Linked DNA regions of Homo sapiens. The protein of the gene in region 1 interacts with the protein of each later gene in a pairwise test. Each region holds a gene or a part of one and is shown on either strand. Other genes may lie near its edges.

Region 1 (8,955 bases):
CAGAATCACAGCTCTTCCCTGAGCCTCGGTGCAAGGCTGAGGTTCACTCCAGGGGTAACCGCAGGCTAAGAAGGACCCAGGAGTGCAGGGACTAGGGGTCCACCCCAGGGCATGGGCTTCCCAGAGCCCCCCTCAGCCTCCACAGGGAGGGGGTGCTCAGAGGGGGCATAAGGGGTGACACGAGAGCCCTGACTCAGGCCAGGGTTGGGGTTAACGCGTCAGTCACACGGGCGTGCTGTCTGCAGGCGACTGGTACTCATTCCCGGTCCAGCTCCTCCCCAGCAGGCTCATCTCCAACAGGCAGCCAGCAGGAACCTTCCGGGGCGTGGAGCCCTGTTTGCTTCACCCACCTACCCACTGATGTTGGGGAGAAGCCCCCTGCGATGTTCGGGCAGGTGCTGGAACGGCCCTGGCTCTGCTGGCCGCCCGGGGAAGGAGCTGCTGGGGGATTTGGGAACTTCCCACTGCCATCTCTAGCAAACCAGGGAGGGGGCAGCCGCCCTGCCTGGGGGGTCTCTGGAGCCTGTCAGGGGACCACCCCCAAAACGTCAGTGCATGACATACCCAGCTGGGGTCACGGTTGTGAGACGCAGGGAGACAGCACAGCCATACATGCGGTGGGATAAAGCAGCTGCAACAAACCGGCTCACCTACCTGGCGATGAGGTAATTGAGGGATAACCTCAGAATTGCTAGAAATAAGAACAATGGGATGGCCCAGCCATGCCACACGGCATTCATGTACACCTGCGGGTGAGAGACAGGGCGTCAGACCTCCTGACAGCTTGGATCAGGACAAGGCACATCCCTCCCGCCTCCCCCCACCAGGCGGCCCCAGTGGGGAGACCAGGCCACCCGCTGGCTCTCCAGACACTCAGGGATGAGGGTGCGTCTGATGGGGAAGCCGGAGGAAGGGCTGCTTCCCCGGTTTAAGAGCCGCCGGTGGAAGCCAGGAGACACCTAGGGAGAAGCGTGTCCTGGGGACAGAAGAGGGCGGCTGGTTCCACATGCGGGTCCTGCCTGCCCCGGTGTGGCTCCCACGCACCAGACTTGGGGCATCACCAGGACTCAGCCTGGCTGGGCGAGGCAGGCAAGCACTGCTGAGGGCGAGCCAGGTGCATGCCCGGGGCCACCTTCATGCCAGGCACCATCTGTGCCCAGCACAGAGCCCGGGACGCAGAGCAGATGTGCACAGGGCAGGGGATGGAGGTGAGGCCTGGAAGGCAGGTTCAAAGCTTGGGCTCATCTCTTAGTGACAACAGACATGGCACAGGAGCGTGTGGGAGCCCAGGCAGCAAAGGCCTCCTGTCGCAAAGCATTTGTGAGGGTGGCAGGAGAAGAGGCCTTCCAGGGCCAGGGTGAAGCCGGTGGTCCCAGCACCCAGCCTTCATCTGTGAGTGAACAAAGTGCCCATGTCCCAGGTGAGTGGTAAGTGCCCGCAGCAGGCACAGGGCCACAGGCTTCAGGGACTTTCCTGGAGAGCCTGACCCAGGCTGAGGTCATCTGGGGACCTCTCCCAAGGGGCCCGCTCAGCAGGGCAGTGCTGCCTTTGGGAGCCCTGGACAGTGCCAGGCTGTGGACGCCTCCTCTCTGGCCTGGAGGCCCTAGCAAGCAGGTGGGCTGCCTGCATCTTCCTCGTGCTGGAGGCACAGTCTCCATCCTGGGTGAGGGGGCTCCCCCCGAGGACCAAGTACTGAGACACAGGTGGCAAGTCTCCTGTCCCGCTGGGGCAGCCGCTGCAGGGCAGTTCCAGGCAGGACGGCTGGGCACCTTTTCCCCAAGGCCCTGGCAATGTGGGCCCTGGCACCCTCCAATCCCTCAGGACTCATGGCTCACAGGGGCTGGGCTGGGCCCCTCGTGCTGCCATGCCCTTGGAGGTACTCCTGGCCCCAGCACCAGGTACTCTGTGGACCTCAGCAGCGTGGCCACCGCACTGCACGGTGAGTGCCAAGAGGCCTTTCCCAAGGGCACCCTGGGGGACAAGGCTGCACCACATCCCTGTCCAGGGAGCCCTGCAGGCTAGCCCCGGGCCACGCCCAACATCTTTGATCCTTGAAGCCACCCCATGGCTGGGCACTGGCATCAGTGAGCCCACTTTACAGAAGGAGAAATGAGCATGTCCCTGGGGCCTGAGGAAGTGCCACCTGGGGGCCACCTCCCACCCTGGGAAGGTGCCTGATCATGTGGTGAATGCTGGCAGGCACATCCCACCCACCCTGCTCGGCCCCTGGAGGACCCACTCACGGTGAAGGCAATGGCAGACGTGTAGACGGAGTACCAGTCGGATAAGGCAGAGAGGTTCTTCACAAAGTTAGTGACCGGCTTGGCACCGCGCTCTGGGGACAGAGCAGACCACAGTGGTCAGCACTGTGGGTAGGAGGCCGCTTAACCACGTCTCCCTGGAGAGTCGGTTCAGCTCAGAATCCCAGAGTCCCCACCGCCATGGGCCCCACCCACACTGAGCATCGTGGGCGCCACGCAGAGCCGCTGGTACTCACTGAGCCGTCTCATATTTTCAGTTAACCTAAGAGAGAAGGGGAGAGATGGGAGCCCAGGGTTAATGCACCCGCCGGCTCTGCAGTCCCCACTGCCCGGTTCCGTTGGCTCTGCAGGGGCCAGGGAGGACGTCTCAACAGCCTGGGACCCCTTGAGTGCACAGAATGGCCATGCACGGCGGCTCAGCACAGCAGGGTGCGCCGGGATGGCCCTCAGTGCCACTCCCCAAGTTAGGAAGGCAGGGGCGACTCGCCAATGAAATCGTCCCCTCATCTCCTGCCTGTGTCCCCAGAACAGAAGTCCTCAAGGGCAGGGCCTTTGCTGACCTAGCTCCCTCGGGACCCCCAGGGCCTATGGCAGCACCTGGCAGGGGAACCAAGGTTTACTGATGGGACTCAAGAGCCAAGGAAGGCCCCAGGCAGTGGGCTGAGCCCCATGAGTCCCCACACAACTGTCACAAGCCACAGCTGAGAGCAGTGCGCGCATGCAGCTCTGCTGCACCTAAGCGGGCCTCGCAAGCCCCTGCCAGGCACGGCCCCCAGAAGACCAGACACAGCGGAGCCTCCAGGAGCTCTCGGCAGCCTCACAGACAGCTTTGGCCCACGGTGATAAAGGATGGCCCACCCGCTGCAGCCTCAGCCCAGGGACCGGGGCCCCTAACGCACAGGCAGCCCCAGCTCGGCGAACCCCTACCTGCGGGCGCTCAGGGGTTCCTCTGTCTCCACAGTGTTCTCCTCGGGCTGGAACCGGAAGTCCTCCACGTACTCCCCAAACCGCTCGTAGAACCACTTCTGCAGGCGCGAGGACAGCCCCTGGCTCCGGCGCTCTGCAGGGGGCAGGGACCCGGTGAGGGCACGGCAGGGCTGCACTGCCTGTTCTGGGGTCGGCTCCGGGATCTCAGGGCAGGGAGGGGCCTCACTGCAAGGGCGCGGCCAGCAGAGGCACAAGGAATGCTCGGGGGTAGGTCAGGGAAATGAAGGGTCCCTGTACAAGGGACTTTGAAGGGCTCAGTCCTCTGAAGACACCAAGTGCAAACCAACCGGCACACAGCAGAGCTGCCCCAGCCATGACGACCTCAGTGCCGGGTCTCTCTGCTTTTCATCCCTGTCCCCAGCTCTCTGCCCGCCCTGGGCTCTCGTCAGCGGGCAGCCTGTCCATCCAGGCTGCTCGGCCCACCTCAGACGTCTGCATCAAACCCCCTTTCTACCTCCGGGTTGTCAGAAAGCAGATGGAGAGGTCACTGCCCCAGCCCTGCATATCCTGAGCATCAGCCAATGGATGGCGCAGCGGGAGGCTGTGTCCTGGGCTGGGGGTGCCTGGCGAGCGCAGCCAGCCCAGGGTGAGCGCACGGTGTTGTCGTGCTGATGACCAGCAATGTTTACCAAAAGCGAACACCTCTGGAAAGCAGCCTCCACGGCGGGAAACCGGAAGAATCCCTCGGAAGGGGGGCTCAGGGGTGCAAGCCAGTCCCTCCCTTCAGAAGGCCAGTGAGGAGCCGCCTGCAGCGGGTGCTGCCTCGCCAAAGTTTTGGGCCCTGGGACCAGAGGGCCTGTGGTCACCATACCCAGGGGGCTGCAGGCTCAGGGCAGAGGCTCAAGAGCCACAGGCCAAGGGGGCTGAGGTCTGTGTACCCCAAGGCCACCCGGGCAGGGAGGATGGGGCCAGGGCAGGCTCCTGCGGCTTCTTCCCGCCCCCAAGGCAGCCTGGCAGAGTTTTTAAGGGGAGGGTCCAGGTGAGATCGGCACACTCGTCCCAGCCGTAAGTGAACCGGCCCGGCTGTGTTCCCATGGACTTTATTTATGGACTGAAATTTCAGGTTTATATTACGTTCTCATGTCATGAAATGAAACCATTTAAATCTGTGAAGCCAGGCGGGGGCTGGAGTTTGCTGACCCCCAGGTACAGGGAACTATGCCGGCTGCCTGCAGGGCGTGGGGCAAGATAAAGAACAGGCACTCAGGGATGGAGGACGAGGAGAGAGATAAAAGGGCACATGAACCCCCAACTCCCCACTCACAGCCAACCATAGCCCCACTGCCCACTTGGTCCCCTTCGGGGAGGCACCAGGGCAGCGGCAGTGACCAGCGTGGCTCTCACATCACTGTTCCGTGGGGCAAGGCTGAAACAGAGTACGTGTGTATTCCCCAAAGAACACACAATCACGCTTTAGTTGAGTGACTGGAAATTTGTGATGACGACTATGATGACTCACCACTTCGCATCAGAGACACTAACCCAGTTCTGACGGGAGGAGATTCCCGGATGCCAGCAGGTGCCTGGGCACAGAACCAGCACCTGCCGCCTGCCCACCTGCTGGGGGAGGGGGTATCTGCTCCATTGTTAACCTGGGCCTACAGAACCAGCAGGTGACGCGCAGCCACCCACCCGCCCGCCTGCCTGTCCACCCGCCCACCAGGGTGTACCTGCTCCATTGCTGGCCTGGGCCTGCCCTTTTGGGGGCTGCTGAGCCATCTGCTCCTCGGTTCTTAAAAAGCAGGGAGAGAAGAGACAAGAGGTCTGTTAGTTCCAAACTCCATGCCCAGTCAGGCACCCCCGAGGGCTCTCGCGACCGTGTACTGCACAGGAGAGGTCAGGGACAGCAGGGCTCTCTCCAGAGTCTCCACTGCTGAAATGCTGGTTCCGAGCGTATCCAGGCAAGCACAGAGCTGCCTTCCTAACAGGCACACGTTTTGTTTTTAAACAACCAGCATCTTTCACCACTCTTTCCTTTCCTATTCATTTTAGCACACTTGCTTCTTTCAACATCATTAAACTCAGAATACTCTCATATCACCAACCCGTCTGCTAATGAAAAGATACTGATCAACACACATGTGTTTATCAGGCACCAAGCCAGGCCACAGGCTGGGTGCCACCTGTCAGCAGCCTGTACCCAGCTCCCAGCTCAGCCTACTCCAGCGACCTGCCTGGACTGGGCAGGGGCACTAGACGGCCACTAGGGTCTGCTTCCGTCCCACACCCAGCCCCTCCAGCCAAGGCCTGTGAGCAGGTGCAGCACAGAACCGGGCCAAGTGCTGTGTGGTCGCCCCTAACCTTCCTAACTCTTGGGAAGCGGGAGTGGGGAGGGAGGAAGCTGGGGGAGGAGTAAACCCTGAGAAGAGAACAGAGGGCGGAGCACAGGGCACACAGGGCACGGCCAGGTAAGCAGCGGGCAGGAAGCAGACAGTGAGGTTTTCAGGGGACTTTGGATCCACAATGGAGAGAATCTCTGCCTACTGACAAGTAGCCTTAAACCAAGGTGACTTTCTGAGAATTTTCTTAAAAACCAAAATAGAGGTTTGCATAAACAGAACTGCTGTGCTTTAATCCTGCAGCTTCAGAGTGTGTGGTATGTGTGTGTGCAGTGTGTGCGCACATGTGTCTGCATGTTTGTGTGTGCCCTCACACACCTACCCACCCTGGACAGACCACAGCCACCCAGACCCACCCCAGATCTGCACCAGGACGACAAGGAAAGAGGAGGTCACTCTGCCTGGGACTGCTCTTCCTTCACCCCTCCTCCTTCAGGCTTCCAGAAGGTTCCTAAGCGCCGCCCCCATGTAAAGCAGGGGAGAGCCCTTAATGCTCCCAGGACCTTCAGCTTCCACTTCCTGGGTCACAGCCTGGATGTTCCTTCACTGCCCATTCCCCACCCATTCCCAAGGCAGAGACTGTGCGAGATGGGGCTCCCTGCGTTCTTACAGCTGACCCGGGCTGGGCACACCTGCCACCAAGGGGCTTTGGTAAAAGATGAGGACCAGATCCTGGAGTGGGGCTGGCGGGAGTGAGAGGATGGGAAACAGAACACAGGGAGCAGGGCCACGGGGACAGCCTCAGGCCACCTTAGCCACCGGGGGAGAAGCAGCGTCCCGTGGCGGGGATGGCACTGTGGCCAAATGCCTGGGGACCGCACCTGTCCCTGGGATCTCCCAGCGTGGCAGGTCAGGTCTCTGTTGCAACTCTACATAATTAAATGTAATTTAAGCTTTGAGCTTCTGTGGATTTTCCCAGAAGGTTCAGCATCAGGTAAAGCGCCTGCCGAGGCCCATGCACCCATTTCTGGTCTGGGAGGTTCTGCCAGGGCGGAATAGGAAAGTGAGGCCTCTCCCTCCCCCACACCAGCTGGATGCCCCCACATGAGCCCCCACATGAGCCCCCCAGGGCACTCCACAAGGTCATGCTGACCTGCAGGAGGCGGGCAAGGAAGAAGTGGGAGTCAGCCCAGCGGATCCCCCGTCTTCCCACACACTAAACCTGAGGGTGCTGAAGGGAGCCGCTTCCTCAGGGCCAGCTAAGCAGCGACACTTGGAGTCCTGACAATGACACACGGCCCCCGGAGCGCTCATAGCAGGCAGTGCTCAGCTGGGGTGTCCCAGAGATGCCGTGTGCCTCCCTAACTGGTGACAGCCATCCATGCAGGTCATGGGGGCCACAGACAAAGGTGTGGCCAATGGTGGTGGGAGGCTGAGGTGGGAGACCTGGAGGGAGGCTAAGTGGAGGCTGGAGGGAGGCTGAGTGGAACCTGAGTGGGGAGGCTGAGGGAGTGGAGTCTGAGGACGGAGGCTGAAGATGATGCTGGGGGGAGGCTGGGCAGAAACTGAGGGTGGAGACTGAGGGGGGAGGCTGAGGGAGTGGAGGCTGAGAGGGAGGCCGAAGCAGGAGGCTGCTGGAGTGGAGGCTGAGAGGGAGGCCGAAGCAGGAGGTTGCTGGAGTGGAGGCTGAGCGGGAGGCCTGGGAGCCAGAGGTGAGTGGCCTGAGCTCCCTGGCCTCATGTACCAGGCACCAGTTTGAACTTGTGCAGAGGGACACGGAGCCTCGTGGTGTTAGCGAGACAGGAGGGCACTGGCTTTGTAACTTGCGCTGGGGTCCTGAATGACCTGCTTCCTGCTGGCGGCACTGTGAGGCGCAGGGCAGGGTGAGGGAGGAGACTGTGAGCACTCAGGGTCCCACATGGGACCCACAAACAAGAGCAAAGATGTCAGGTGCAGACATGCCTCTCTAGGAGCCAGGGCGGCACTGGCGCCCAGGACATGATACTGCTAGGATGGGGGCAGGGGGGCGGGGGCCACAGCGTGGCTGGGGCAGACAGGGGGCATGGGAACACGCACAGGCAGCACTGGGAAGGCAGGTCCTGGGAAGATCCTAAGAGGCCGGGCTGGCCCCCGGGGTGGGGCACTGGGTGGATGTACAGAATGGGGTCACCAGCAGGCCGGGATCAGAGCCATGAGGTGGCTCTGGGGCTCTGCAGGCCCCATGCCAAGCCTCTCTTCAGTTGGCCTGGCCCCAGGCCTGGGGGCTGGCAGGAGCACCTGTGCACCCTTTTCCAGACCGCCAGAGGCACAGGAAGATGACACATTCCCAAGACCACAGCTCATGCAGGCACAGGCAGGACCTATACCTGGGCAGTCAGAGCCGGGCCCACCCTCACACTCAGGCCTCTCCAGGGCCAAGAATGATGCTGCCAAGACGCTATGGGTGCAGCAGAGGACGGCGGGGCGGGTGGGGTGGGGGGTTGGGGCAGCCGCACACAGGCCAGGGCCCCGAGGAAGGCGCGGTACCTGGCCTTCAGCACCTCCTGCACCTTCTGCTCCAGCTCCATCCGCCGCTGCCGCTCGCGGTCCAGCTCCTGCCGCAGCATCTCCGCGTTGGTTTCTTCTCGCAGCTTCCGGAGCTCCTCCTCTATGGGGGAGAGAACGGCCAGGTGACCATCGCTCATGTCCACGCGACCCCGACTCTGGGATGCTGGGGCAGGGGTGCCTGACTCAGAAACAGCAGAGGGGTCTCTGCTCCGTAAGCGGACCTGAGCACCTGACCTTCCTCCAGGGTGCGGGGCGCTCACAGCAGGACATGAACTGGTCCCCATCCAGCCCTTCCTCCTGGGCAGGAGCTAGTAACGGGGCTCCTCTTACATGACTGGGGCAAGAGGTGGGTGAAGCAAGGGTGTGAATTTCCTCACTATGCTTCATAACAGTGCAACACAGAACACAAAAGCCATTTCACCAAGCACCGCCACGCTGAGGACACCTGCGGAAAGGACGCTGACCACACCTGGCCAGCCCACCACACCCACCCAGCGCCTCCATGTGCTGGGTGAGGTTCTGGGACGCGTCGGCAGCAGAGCAAAGGCCCTGGGCCAGCGGGGACAGCCCACAGCTCAAGCTGGCCAGGGGGCCTGAGAAGAGCACGGGGCAGGCTGGACACAGGGCTGCTCTGGGAAAGCCTCGGGAGAAGGTGAGTTCTGAGTCAAGGCCTGGAGGGAACACAGCGAGGCCACAGACCCTGGGAAAGAGCATCCAGGCAGAGGGAGGAGGCAGGGTCAGAGGTCAGAGGTCGGAGAGACTGGAAGACTGAGGATGGAAGGGGCCAGGAGCCAGGGAGTGCAGGCAGCCTCTGGCAGTCAGGACACTTCTACCACTTAAAGACAGGAGAGACGGGGACCCGGCCTCTCTCCCGCTTCCTC
Region 2 (7,000 bases), on another chromosome or scaffold:
TCCTTGCGAAGGGTGCGAGGAGACCTTTCAGGGACTCTCCTGCATCCCGTCCTCTGTTTCCAGTTCTGCCAACTGCCTTCGAAGGATATTGACTTTTGCTTGTAATTCTTTATTATATTCAATGATGTTAACCATTTCTTCATATGCTTCATCCAAATACTTAGAGGATCTATTCCAACGTAGGAAAATACCTATTGAATCCAGGAATGGAAAACAGAAGCAAGAAAGGTATATACAATGGATTAAAATTACATTTGTGGATAAGATGTAATTTATGTATTATACATTCTTTTTTCTTTTGTTGCCACAACTCACATCTGTATTTTATTATACTCTAAAATATACAGGAATCTTGAGGTACTGAAAAGGATGCAATTGAATACAATATTTGAGAAGTCACTACTTGTATGTACATGCTCATTGATTCTTCAGAAATATCCCACAAAATTATCAAATAGATCCAAATACCATTTTATGATATATTCAGGAAAACAAGATGATAATTTGCAATGTCATAAACTTTCCAATTTCACAATATAAATCACTTATTTTTATAATTATAGAATATTGCTCAGACATGTAAGATCCCTTAAATGTGTGAAGCCATTTTCACCTGAAAAGTGACAACTACAGTAAAAGCAGAACCACATATGTTGTTATTTGAAAGCCTGAACTGTAGCCCACGTGCTTACATGCCTCTCTCCCTGTTACTTGAGAGGCAATCTTTCAATTCTGCAGGCAATTTCTTCTTTCCCCAAATAATAATAATTATCCTTTTATTATGAACCAAAAGGAAATATTTTCTCCTCTCCATAGCCCTATGTTAACTGTATCACACCACAATAATGCCTTACAGTTACTCAAGTCAGGAGGCACGAAAATCTTCCAGGCTGCACCATGTCAGTGGATGGCAAGTTCACAAAGGTTTTATGATTCATTAAAACACTCTCTACAAACCAAACTGCCATGGGTCCTAATGAGCCCTTCTATGCAGCTCCCAACATCAGGCTGTATCAGAAAGGGAAAGCAGAACCACAGCGTAAAGCCTGACCCACCCATGTTGATTTTTCTAATTCAGGAATTTCTAAATATTAATGGTTAGCTGTGATGTAAATGTAAACAGCAGAGAGATATTTTAAGGCCGAAGAGCAGTCTTATTCAATATAGATGCCTACCATAGGATTTTACCTAATAGAGAGCTTCTTCTTCTCCCAGCTCTAGGTTGAGGAGCATGAAACACACACTGAAACTCCGGCATGGCAGGACTTAATCCACAGAACAAGGATTTCATCCCATCACTTATCTCTAAGCTCCACAAGGAGGTTTGGTACAAAGCAATTAAATCATCCTTCAGGCCACCCAGCTCCCAATGTGGGTTTTCTCCCAAACAGCTACGCTCATTTCAGTTATTAAATGTGACAGTGGCTTTAAGTACATTGTCCCAGAAGTCCTAAACAGGAAGAATACTGTAACCTCTCGTTTAAGAGATCATGAACCCTGTACTGACTGTGACGACAATCACGAAAGTAAGCAAAGAGAAGTTCTGAGCAGTCACCATCCCTTCACAAATCAAAGCACTAAAGCTCACACCCAGAACCTCAAGACCATCTAAGACCATTTCCCCACAATGCTAACTAGGGGACACTTCAATAGATAAGATTAGAAGCATGAACTGAGGTGGAAGGAAGCCACTAATGGCAGATAAGCCAAGAGGAACTAGATGTGACAGCTGACATCCAGAGAAGAGACAGAAACTGATTTGGTCTCAGACTCAGAAGCCAAAGCAATCTGAGACCCGTTTCCACAAAGGGCAAATAGTTTTCCACACGTGAACTGCCTTTGAGAGTATAACATACTAGAATACGGCGTAACAACTGGCATTAACGGTAATTCGGTTTAATTTAACAAACAGCTACCATTCTTGTATGTATACTTTATGCTATTAAACATAAACATGAATAAATGTGTGCTTATTATCTTCAAAATAACTTTAAAAATTAAATGGTATTTTAGAGGCTTTGTTTAATGAAACACTATATAGTTCAGATAGATTTTGGTTATTTTTATCTTTATTTTTATCTTTTTGAGAAAGTCTCGTTGTGTCACCCTGGCTAAAGTGCAGTAGCATCATCTCTGCTCACTGCAACCTTTGCCTCCCAGATTCAAGTGATTCTCCTGCCTCAGCCTCCTGAGTAGCTGGGGCTACAGACCCGCACCACCAAATTGGCCTGTTTAATTTTTGTATTTTCAGTAGAGATGGGGTTTCACCATGTTGGCCAGCCTGGTCTTGAACTTCTGACCTCAAGTGATCCACTCACCTGAGCCTCCCAATGTGCTGGGATTACAGGCGTGAGCCACCACACCTGGCCAGATTTTGGTTATGTTTTAATTAATAAGCTTCCATACTTAAGGGGATAAGCTTCAATAGTTGGAAAAATCAGTGCATATAAAAAATCTACTTTAGAATAGATTTAAAAATTAAGCATATAGTCCCATAAGAACAATGAAATATCTGTGTTACTGCACTGATGGTATTTTGTGCCCATTTATAGAAACTTACTGGAATGCCCAGCCATGTAACTCTTTAATACCATTTAATACAAGAACCTATCCTAATGACTGCTTCATTAAGGGACAGAAACTCTCCCTGATGAGCTTACAATTTATTCATGTCCCAACTACTTACCAACTCTCTTAGGCAAAGAGTAAGGTACTTTCTTATCTAGAAAAATATCCAACATAAACAGCAATGTAAAGAAACACTGTTAATTTCTCAATGGTAACTGAAAAAAAAAAAAAGTGTGGCTAGATAACTGATTTGAAAGAGAAAAACATGCCCACACTGAGAATGACAATTCACACAGGTCTGAGGGCCACGTCCAGCTCACCATCTTCATACATCACCAACAGCACACACTCACAGGCAGCCGCATGCACACCTGACCGTTAAGAAGTTTGCAAAGGATGCGTGGTTTACCTTCCCACAGTGGAAGACTCTGCGGAGCAACTGAAGGCCAGATGACAAGGTTGTTGGCTTCAAAGAGGGGATTGGTGAATTTACTCAGCTCACTGGGCTGATTAACCCAGGACCACAAAGACATCGTCTTCTGCTGTAGCTTCAACTTACATCTGATCAAGAAAGAACACTGCCATTAAAGTAATTAATTTATAACAACCATTATTGAGTGCTCCTCTTACGAGGACAATTTCTTCTCAGTATGAAAGAAGATAGAATACAAGACTTTTGGTAGAGAAACAAAGTGTTGAAAAATCAATAGATTTGTCAAAAAGCTCAATCGGCATTAGAACTCTCAACAACAACAAAACAAAGAGTATTTTACAGGCTTCCAAGAAGCTGGCAGGAGGATAAAAACAGAATCTGGTCACATCAGGTTTGGTGTTAAACCTTAACCCAGAGAACATTACTGTACACAAAAGTCCTTTGTTATATTTGGGATTCTATTTTAATTAAAAATAGCTAAGCATAAAAAAACTTTCTAACCTTTTTGTTTCTGAGAAGCCTATAATATAAACATAAAAATTATACACTTTTTGACATTTATGTCCTATTTATTTTTCTAGTTTCTTTAAGAAAGGGCTTGTTGTGCAGAAACAACCAGGATAGCTTACAAATATGAATGTCTGGAAAGACCCCCAGGGTCTTCATTATTTACATTGTTTGATAACCACTTTCTAATTGTTTTTTTTTTTAATTTTTTATTTTAATTTTTCCATAAGTTATTGGGGAACAGGTGGTATTTGGTTACATGAGTAAGTTCTGTAGTGGCGATTTGTGAGATTCTGGTGCACCCATCATCCGAGCAGTATACAATGAACCCTAATTGTAGTCTTTTATCCCTCGTCCCCCTTCTGTCCCTCCCCCAAGTCCCCAAAGTCCACTGTATCCTTCTTACGCCCATACTAATATTAAAAGTGGAGGTTGAGTCAAATCTCAAACAAAACTTAAAATTTTTTAGAGACTTAGCTTTTAGGGAAAATAACTTACATGTACATAAAATACAGATTGTCAAAGATGAAAAATCAATGTGAATCTTGACATAAATACATATTTAATCTATATCCACATACAATGAACAGGCTTCATAATAATTCTAAAACTCTGGAACACTCTTTATCATGTGAATAAACTGTTAGAGAAGGATAACAGTCGATCGGCATGTTTTAGAAAAAAATACATTTTAACACAGATTGAAAGACAGTCTGTGGTAAACCTTACATCAACCAAAAAGATAATACATTCAATTCTCATAAGACTCAGTTTAAGCTGAGATTTTATTATAAAATCAGTTTTGTCTCTGAAACCACATGATTATTTATGAGCTACGTGCAACTTACTGCATTCTTTTTGAGCTAGCAATAAAAATAATCCACATAATCATAGAGCCTATGTGGCATTGGACTTTAACTGCTGGGATAGCATGTCCCACGCTATGTTCCCAGGAACCAGGGATGACAAGGACAGGACATTATTGCATCCACTGCCTCCAGCCCTGTGCCCCCTGCCCATGGCCGGCCAACCACTGAACTTGCTCTGGCTGAGCCTGACACCACTTCAGAATCCTTCCCATCAGCATTGCTGGCAGCCTCTACCAACTGGGAAACAGAATGGGAATCTATTTTGATCCCTTCTTGAAAGCTAGTCCTGAGGATATTAACAGGTATAACACCAAAAAAAATTCATCATCAAACACATTTCTTAAATGCTGAATTAAACTTATATACATTGCTTTACTGAAGAGTGTCTTAAAGCCTTTAATGATTATGCGTTAATCATTAAATCCTCCCTTCTAAGTGGGGGAGTTAATCCTCCCCTCTAAGTGGGGAGGATATTATGTCATATTCACCAAACTTCCTTGGCTATAGAAATTGCCAATCCCTCCTGTCCCTCCCTGCCAGAGTACAGTCCAGGGCTAAGCAACACATGCTTCAGAAAATGGTGGCTGCCAGCAATGAGGCAAGGAAGGCTGCTGATTGTACCCTGAAGAGATTACCAGGCAACCTCCCTGAAAGATCATTCTGATGTGAATCTTGTAAATGAACCTATACACTTGATGGTGCCTGGGCTGTAAGGTGAGCTTGCCACTCTGGGCCTGAGGACAGTTTCTAGGTGTAACAAAGTCTGGAGCAGGAGGAGGAAGACCTGTAATTTAGGCCAGGGATCCCCAAACCCCAGGCCATGGACCAGTAAGGGTCCGTGGCCTGTTAGGAACTGGCCACACAGCAGGAGGTGAGTGGCAGATGAGCGCGTATTTCCACCTCCTGTCAGATCAGCATCAGATTCTCAGAGAAGCGCAAACCCTACTGTGAGCTGCGCATGTGGGGAATCTAGGGTGCGCCTTTATGAGAATTCTCCTTATGAGAATCTAATGCCTGATGATCTGACATGGAACAGTTTCACCCCAAAACCATCACCAATCCCGCTGCCACCCAATCCAAAGAAAAGTTGTTATCCACAAAACTGGTCCCTGGTGCCAAAATGGTTGGGGATCGCTGCTCTAGGCCACACTTTTGATGACCAACTGACTCTATGTCCTGGGAAAAGTCACGTAACTTCTCTGGATCTTACTTTCTTAATAAAATTAGAGGGAAGACCTGAATTATAAATTAAGGCTTTTTCCACATGTAAGATACTATGATCCTATGTTAAGAAATTAACATTTAAAATGGTTGCCCCTTAATTCACGTATGGACTAATTTTAACCTAACAGAACAAAGTCTAGGACATGCTCTCATAAAAGAATATACTTCAGGTCATTTAAATTATAATTAACTGTAGCCTCTACCTTTTTATAAATAATTTTAATATAGATCCAAATCGTCGTCTCCTAGGAGATTCTGGCTACTTAGGAAGTAGCCAAAACAACGGAAAAGGAAAGGTCCCCATGTGAGCAGTGTACTCACCTTTCACTTTCATTGTTGCCCAGAAATGTTCCAAACTGTGAGGCATAAGCATGCTCAAAGAGCATGATGAGGAAATTCTCATTAAACTCAAAAGAACAGGGAAACTGACGAAGGATCTGCCACACGCAGTCCAAGAAGAGAAGAAATACAGGAGCCTCCCACTTCTGCTTGGTGTTACAGTAGGCTGACTGTGCACAGCGCTGCTGGAATGGGTGACCAGCCTAGGGGGAAGATGGAGGCGTGACAGTCATATCCTGGTGAGATCACATGACAGAGCATTCTACCGACACCACTATACACAATTACAGTGACACTCCTAGTACCTGGAACATCATATAATTAGGGTAGCTGTTGTACAGATTAATGATTTCTTGGTATAAAATAAATAGCGGCAGCAACTAAGGAAAAAGACACACTTCCAAATCCTTAATGAGGCTGCGCGGCTAAGGTGTGACCACAGGAACTGCACTGCCCTTGGAATATCCCATGGAAGAATAATGAACTTAAGCAATAATAAACTTACAAAATAAACCTTTCTAGGTCTACAAAACCTGGAGCAAAGTCAAAGAACATAAGCTCTCAGTACAAAGAAGAATCATCACCTCTGTCTAACACTGTAGATTGTGCTGTACACTAAACAAGCCTCACCCTAAGTGGAGACAGATATGGAACTCTGATCACCTTTATAATGTCAGCTCTGATAGTAAATCTCTAATTATATACGAAAAGTTATTGTGTTGAAAGATCTTTATGAGTACTTTTCTACAGGAGATAAAGCTGTCATTAATTACCCTCTTCTCCCAAAATGAACAGCAAGAGTCTGCCATCTACTGACCAAAGTAAATTTAAGACTCATTTGACTGTCTTGTTCAGAACCCAAATGCTGACCTTAATACAAATCATACTCTGCTAGGAATTTCACAGATCTGCTTTGTCTCTGGGTCCTTCTACTACTGTATGTGACAAAGGTAATGACATAGAAATTTTACAGTGGTTCACAGAATTGTGATATCCATTAAAATAACATAAAAATCAGTCAGTCATACTCATTTGTTTGTCTACTATGCATCATGAGGAA

Evidence for each region. The genes of interacting proteins can lie anywhere in the genome.
Region 2: the proteins of GRAMD4 (region 1) and MTMR9 interact in binary tests that used the Homo sapiens proteins (3 or more experiments, as listed by UniProt).

Annotation. Positions count from the first base shown.
Region 1 is NC_000022.11:46,657,406-46,666,360, reverse strand, and holds part of GRAMD4 (GRAM domain-containing protein 4), read right to left. Parts: intron 8,175-8,955; coding exon 8,054-8,174; intron 4,981-8,053; coding exon 4,919-4,980; intron 3,322-4,918; coding exon 3,189-3,321; intron 2,524-3,188; coding exon 2,498-2,523; intron 2,336-2,497; coding exon 2,244-2,335; intron 747-2,243; coding exon 655-746; intron 1-654. UniProt on the Homo sapiens protein: Plays a role as a mediator of E2F1-induced apoptosis in the absence of p53/TP53. Plays a role as a mediator of E2F1-induced apoptosis in the absence of p53/TP53. Inhibits TLR9 response to nucelic acids and regulates TLR9-mediated innate immune response.
Region 2 is NC_000008.11:11,315,816-11,322,815, reverse strand, and holds part of MTMR9 (myotubularin-related protein 9), read right to left. Parts: intron 6,958-7,000; exon of another isoform or gene 6,144-6,957; coding exon 5,923-6,143; exon of another isoform or gene 3,130-5,922; coding exon 2,978-3,129; exon of another isoform or gene 1,216-2,977; intron 192-1,215; coding exon 28-191; 3' UTR 1-27. UniProt on the Homo sapiens protein: Acts as an adapter for myotubularin-related phosphatases. Increases lipid phosphatase MTMR6 catalytic activity, specifically towards phosphatidylinositol 3,5-bisphosphate and MTMR6 binding affinity for phosphorylated phosphatidylinositols.